Linked DNA regions of Homo sapiens. Changing the gene in region 1 together with any one later gene gives a genetic interaction. Each region holds a gene or a part of one and is shown in the gene's direction. Other genes may lie near its edges.

Evidence for each region. A genetic interaction does not mean that the proteins touch.
Region 2: changes in FBXW7 (region 1) and TOP3A together harm fitness more than expected from each alone (negative genetic interaction), as found in Homo sapiens cells (one large-scale study listed by BioGRID).

Annotation. Positions count from the first base shown.
Region 1 is NC_000004.12:152,529,593-152,533,092, reverse strand, and holds part of FBXW7 (F-box/WD repeat-containing protein 7), read left to right. Parts: intron 1-2,242; exon of another isoform or gene 2,243-3,500. UniProt on the Homo sapiens protein: Substrate recognition component of a SCF (SKP1-CUL1-F-box protein) E3 ubiquitin-protein ligase complex which mediates the ubiquitination and subsequent proteasomal degradation of target proteins.
Region 2 is NC_000017.11:18,280,495-18,283,994, reverse strand, and holds part of TOP3A (DNA topoisomerase 3-alpha), read left to right. Parts: intron 1-1,153; coding exon 1,154-1,297; intron 1,298-3,336; coding exon 3,337-3,459; intron 3,460-3,500. UniProt on the Homo sapiens protein: Releases the supercoiling and torsional tension of DNA introduced during the DNA replication and transcription by transiently cleaving and rejoining one strand of the DNA duplex.

The DNA of each region.
Region 1 (3,500 bases):
TCAGCCTCCCAAATAGCTGGGACTACAGGCATGTGCTACCACGCCTGGCTAATTTTTTTTGTATTTTTAGTAGAGATGGGGTTTCACCATGTGGGTCAGGCTGGTCTAGAACTCCTGACCTCAAATGATCTGCCCACCTCGGCCTCCCAAAGTGCTGGGATTACAGGCGTTGAGACACCGCGTCCTGCCAAAAAATTATGGTAATGTTTTATTGCACGTTTGGGTAGAAATGACAAAGTTTTTGGGGTCCCTGCCTTTGAGATGCTTTTACTTGTAGGTGGTGGAGACAATCAAACACAAATTGCACAAAGCTATAGGAGAGGGGGGATAGACCAATATTTATCTAAGACCGCACTGGATGTTAGATATTGTCAACTTATAGATGTGAATATATTTTTACATTTTTCACTAGGGAAATGTTGCTTTTGGACGTGTACATATAGAACTAATTGAAGTATTGAAGCCAAATCTGGGAAGGTTTCTTTTAGGAAGAAAAGAGCAAGTGGAGACACAATATTTAAGACTTTTGGAATTGAAAGGCATAAGGGACAGATAAAATTACGAAGCTGGTTTGAAGGGAATACAGATAGAGGTTGTTGAGTAGTGTTAGGGTCAGTTGTGTTTGTGTAGACACATGATTACAGTTCAAAGAAGCAACTGAGAAGAGTGTTCCTGAGAGTAATTTCAGATGACTGGGGAGAAATTACATTTTAGGTAAAAGCTGTATGCCTGGATTAGGATTTTGTTTTTCTAGGGAACCAACATTTTTATTATATCGTGGCTATCCAGGGCTATACAGAAGGAGGAGTGAAAAAGAAGATGCTTAGTGTGTTGAAAGTGGCTTCTTACAAAAAAGAGTTTAGAAATGGGACAGTAGACTTTGCTTTGGATGTGAAATTTTAGGGCAACAATTGGATACTGGTGCAGTTTCAAAACAGCAAAATAGTTTAGCAGGTAATATACTGAAAATGTAAAGTTGGAATTATTTTCAAAGTATTTAGGTTTCCCAGAGTACTGATGGAAAGTGAAGAGCTGAAAAGTGGGTATTTTTAGTTAGGGGGAAAATCTGAATGAATGAGACACTACCTAAAATAGATGTTTTAGAAGTGGATAAGAGTTGAAGTTAAAAAGGAATGAGCAGGCTTTAAACATGGCCACCAGTTTAGTCCCAGGGTATATTATTCTGTATTTTTGAAACAAGCTAAAATTTTTTTTTTTTTTTAAATAGGGTATATAGGTCCCTTGAGATTAAGTTCAGAAGAGTATACTTAATAATAATTTCATTGTTAAGGAATTTATAAATAGAAGGACAGATTTGTTTCCTCAAATTCATGTTTTAAAGTTCACTGTGCATTATTATCCTACGTTTGGTCTTGATATGACGAAGTGAGGCCAAAAATAGCTGACAGAGAAGGCTGCTTCCCTTGTTCACAGTTGGTGTGTGTCTTTGTGTCCCATACAATGGAGGGGATATCCCTGTGTAGGCACAGTAGTGCTGAACATGCTTTTTTTTTTTTTTTCCTTTTAAACTTTTTATTAAAAAAAAGCAACTTGGCATTTAAAAAAATGTAGACATTTTTGCGGCTTGCATTTAGTATTGACTTTAACAGGATTAAGGATTGTGAGGAAGGAAATATATATTCACACTTTTTTGTGTTCCTTAGTTGGAATTCTGCACCTTCCTAGTAGCTTCTCTGACTTCTTAACAGTGATTATTCAAATGGCAGAAACTCTGGGGAAGAGATGTTTCAACAAGGAGATAGGTCTAAGGTGATTCTAGGGTGAAAATATAGGGATTGGATTATATGCCATATGGAGGCCTTCTCTTGTCATCCTCCACTTTCCACAACATTTTTTGTGCAGTCGAAGCCATGTTCAGATGAATTTTAGAAGGCAGCCACTTATAGTTAATGTTATTTACTAGTGAGGACAGTGGGAAGAGTGGTAACTTCATGTACTTTGCCTTGGCAACTTTTGGATTGATAGGGAATTAGAGAGCCTTGAGGGTATATGTTTGTGTGTGTGTGTGTGTTTTAGCACCCACCAGATGACCCCAAAGGCCATGCATAGGCTCATTTCATTGTACTTTGGAGATGGTTCTTGGAGAAGTCTTCTGGTGCTTCTGACATCTCATTGTGTAGAGAAAGAGTTGGCAAACTATTTTTGTAAAGGGCCAGTTAGTAAATATTTTAGGTTTTACAGGCCACATGATCTGTCACAACTTTCAATTCTGTTCTTATAGTGTGAAAGCAGCTGTAGACAACAAGGAAGTGAATGAATGTTGCCGTGCTCCAATTGGCCCATAGGCCGAAGTTTTTGGACTCCTGGTATAGACAACTGCCAAATCCACCAACAAACAGTATGAGCTTTATTACACTACAAAGCCAGGACTGGCTATTTTTGGTGGTCTTTGTTTTCTAGATGAGATGTTTTTCTCTGAGTTCATTTAAAATGATTCTGCATAAAGCACATACTCTACTGTACAAAATACTTTTGCCTTCATGGTGATGAAAACTATGGATTGAGGGTCGGGGTGATACCATCTTTAAAGGGATGCAGCTAAAAAGTAGGGACTACCTGCATTTCTTATCTAAAGATAACCACAGTTGGCATTTAGTGATATACTGGCTTTGTATCATGGCCAAAAGTATCTGTAAAGAAGCTTGTGGGCATACTTTTGAAACCTTCTGAAAATAAATGTAAAGCATTTACTTCGTGTGTAAAATTAGAAGTGTCTATGGTTGGTTTGAATAATATGAGTCAAATTATAAGAGCATTAAAGTTTGATACTGCTATCTATTAAAGTCTTAATCTCTTGCAGTGGCTAATTCAGTGTGTAGAATTACACATCGCAATTTTTGTTTTGTTAATTTCAAGTACTAGTGTATATTAACAAATCACTTAAATCATTTAAATGTGTACTTTAAAAAGCTTTGATGTATATACATATATATACGTATATATATATATGTACACGTATATATATACACGTGTGTGTGTGTGTGTGTGTGTGTGTGTGTGTATTTTTTTTTTTTTTGTGACGGGGTCTCATTCTGTCACCCAGGCTGGAGTGCTGTGGTGTGATCTCAGCTCACTGCAACCTCCACCTCCTGGGCTCAAGTCATCCTCCTACCTCAGCCTCTCGAGTGGCTGGGATCACAGGCATGCGCCACCATGCCCGACTAATTTTTTTGTATTTTTGATAGAGATGGGTAACAACTTTTGGATTGATAGGGAATTAGAGAGCCTCGAGGGTATATGTGTGTGTGTTTTAGCACCCACCAGGTAACCCCAAAGGCCATGCATCATGTTGCCCAGGCTGGTCTCTTAACTCCTGAGCTCAGGTAATCCATCTACCTCGACCTCCCTCAGTGCTGGGATTGCAGGCGTGAGCCACCACACCTGGCCAGCATTGCTATATTTTTAAGAGTGAATCTTTCTCACATGTGTTGTTCAGAAAGTGTAATTCACTTTGTGCAATTTTACATTACAGTTAATAT
Region 2 (3,500 bases), on another chromosome or scaffold:
ATTGGGTTTGGGGCACATCCAAATAGCTAAACAGGTAAAGACTCCTGGAGGGTGGGTGTTTGGGAGAGGGCATGGAAGCTACCCCTTCCCCACATCCCTTGCCCTGTGCATTGCTTCCATCTGGGTATTCACCTGGATCCTTTGTAATTAACGGGTAAGCATAAGTAAAGTGTTTCCCTGAGCTCTGTGAGCCACTCTATTGAGAATCAAACCAAGGAGGGGGTCTGAGGAACCCCAGTTTATAGCCAGTCAGTCAGAAGCACAGGTCACAGCCTGGGATTTGTGACTGACATCTGAGGGAATTTGGGGCAGCAGTCTTCTGGGACTGAGCCCTTAACCGTTAGATGGATCTCCAGGTGCATAGTGTCAGAATTGAATTGAATTAGAGGATGTCCAACTGGTGTGTGGCGGGAGAGTTGCTTGGTGTATGGGGAAAACTCCCATACATCTGGTGTCTGATGTGTGTTGTGAGACTGTAATAGAAGATAACAGTTTGTTATTTTCTGTTCTTTAGAGTACCCCATGCCAGTTGTGAAAAGGCAGGCATGAGCTAGTTTAGACTTAATACAGACAGACACTCCTGGAGTTTGTACATGGACCCTGTGCAGTTTTACTTTTTTTTTTTGAGATGGAGTTTCGCTCTTGTTGCCCAGGCTAGGGTGCAATGGCGTGATCTTGGCTCACCACAACCTCTGCCTCCTGGGTTCAAGCGATTCTCCTGCCTCAGCCTCCTGAGTAGCTTGGATTACAGGCATGCGCCACCATGCCTGGCTAATTTTGTATTTTTAGTAGAGACGGGGTTTCACCATGTTGGTCAGGCTGGTCTCGAAATTACAACCTCAGGTGATCCGCCCGCCTCGGCCTGGGATTACAGGCGTGAGCCACCACATTTGGCCCAGTTTTACTTTTTAATGTGGGCTGGTGACAAGCAGAAGCATCTGCCTGTATCTGGACTCTCCTCCCAAGAGTTGGTTCGGCACCAGGGCCCATGGTGAGCTCAGTCTTCTGTCTGCCGTCTGTTCTCTGCAGGAGGCCTGCGGCTCACTGACCAGCTGGTTCTCAAGGTCACGCCTGTTGTGTGCATGTAAGAGTGTTGTAGGTGCCTTTGCAGCGATTGCTGGCTGATGGGTGTCTGTCTTTGCCTTTTCTTCAGATTGGACGAGGCCTTGGCCCAGTACTTTGGGAATGGGACAGAGTTGGCCCAGCAAGAAGATATCTACCCAGCCATGCCAGAGCCCATCAGGAAGTGCCCACAGTGCAACAAGGACATGGTCCTTAAGACCAAGAAGAATGGCGGGTGAGTGCGCTGCCTTCTGCCCCCACCTCTGCTCCCCAGCACCTGCGGTGTCAGCCGTAGCTCGAAAGACCCTGCCATTTCACTCCATGGAATCTTTCAAGACAGGCCTGTTGTTGCCAACCTGCAGGCAAGGTGTTGGCCTAAAAGCATAGCAGGGTGGGATCAGGCCTTTGAGGTGTAAAGCACTATGGGAATTCAGAGCAGGTGAGAAACTGAATGATAGTGGGGTTTTTTTGTCCCCTGTGGATAGGACATCATATACCCAATGTGTAACACATGGAGGAGCATGAGCTTCAGATCTAGGTGGGTCTGGGTTCAAATGCCACTTATGCCGCATATAAGTGGTGTGGCCTGAAGCAAGTTACTTACCTGCTCTGAACCCCAATTTCTTCTTTTATAAAATGTCAGTACTTACAAGGCTGTGTTAAGGGTGAGGATTTGGTGAAAATGGTCAGGACTATATAGCACATTGCCTGATGTGTTGTAGATACTCAGCAGATACTACTTTTGTTCTCTCCTAGTTTTAGTTCTGAATGGGGCCTGAAAATCTCAACTCCCTTTTCGCTTTAAATATAGTAGATCTGAGTGGGCAATTTAGCTTCACATCAGGTTGTTGGAGCCAGTGGCTGGCCACTGGAGGAAGTTCACGGGGAAAGACGAGGTGGAGGGGTGGCAGCCATCATTCATCAGGTGCCGTCCCTCACTGGTGTAATGCAGGGTGGTGCTCTGTAAGCATTACCTCATCCCATTCTCCTAACTACCCTGCAAGGCAGGGATTTTTATGCAGCTTAGAGGGCTGAGGTGCTTGCTTGGAGTCAAGCAGCCGTGGTGGGCAGCAGAGTTTGAAACCGGGTTTTCACTGCCTTTTTCCATCCTGCCTGGCCCACCTGGGACTGCTGTGCTCCTTGCTGCTGAATAAGAAAGGAGGTTTCTCAACTCCTCACCTCCAGCCATCATTAACCTGGCTGGCCCAAGTGAAGAGAAGGCCACCCAGGCTCTCAGAAACAAGAGGTCTATGGGCCAGACCTGGAAGCAGGTGTCAGGGCTCGCGTCACTCACAGACAGAAGCCAGTGCCACTCTAGGCTTAGCCCAATGACTGGGCGTATATTTCAGCACTTAATAAATGCTGTCGATGGGTTTTCCTTGCTATCGGTAGGTTATTGGATTAGTACTCATTGGAATATAAGGAGAGAGAATAACTACTTTTGTTTTAGCTCTGAATTCTCCAATTCTCTGAATTGGAGAATTATTATTATTCTTTAGTTATTCGTTTGTTCTTCTGTTATTCTTTTGTAATGCTTCTCTGAGTTACTCCAGAAGGTCAGGAGATTATCTTGTGGGATTTGCCACTCCATGATTTATCTGTTAATTTCCATTTCTGAGATTGTAAATTTCTTATTTAAATGATTGGAGTTCGGGGCTTTTTTTTCCTTCATAGTGTACCCAGGCACACTCATGAGGAATTTGTAAATCACATGCATATTAGCTAGTCAAACCCTAACGTTTCATGACTGCAAGGTGTTGAAAAACATTGGCCAGGAGAGACCGGGATGGGATGGATGGGCAGTGGGTGGGGTGTAGATGTTGCAGGTGAGGCTTTGTCACAAACAGATGGGTTTCCATTCCTGGCTCCCATCCACACATGCATGCATGTCTCTGGGCAGGTTTCCAGGCCACACCAAGCCACTGTTTACTCACATGCAAACTGAGGGGGCCCCTGACACTGCCCAGACTTGGCACGAGGCAGAAAGGCAAGAATGTGTGAGTGCACAGCACAGAGCCCCTGGCGTCAGCTTGGTTGGTTGTTGGTTTTCTAAATAGAAAGCAGGGCCAGCAATAGCTGCTTTGTGCTTTTGGGATGTGAGAAGGCTCATTTTTCCCAATCAATTCAATATGAGTGCTTGTGTATCCAGTTAAGTGTCATCCAGAAAAGGGAATGTTGTCCTCGGGCAGCTGAGGAAAGGCTGCCTTAGCTGATGGCCAACAGCGGAGAGCATCTCCTGCACTCCTATCATCTGACATGGCACTTTGTCCCCAGGTTCTACCTCAGCTGCATGGGTTTCCCAGAGTGTCGCTCAGCTGTGTGGCTTCCTGACTCGGTGCTGGAGGCCAGCAGGGACAGCAGTGTGTGTCCAGTTTGTCAGCCACACCCTGTGTACAGGTGAGCTGGGCACCTGAGTCAGGTGCCTCCTCTGGAGTGTG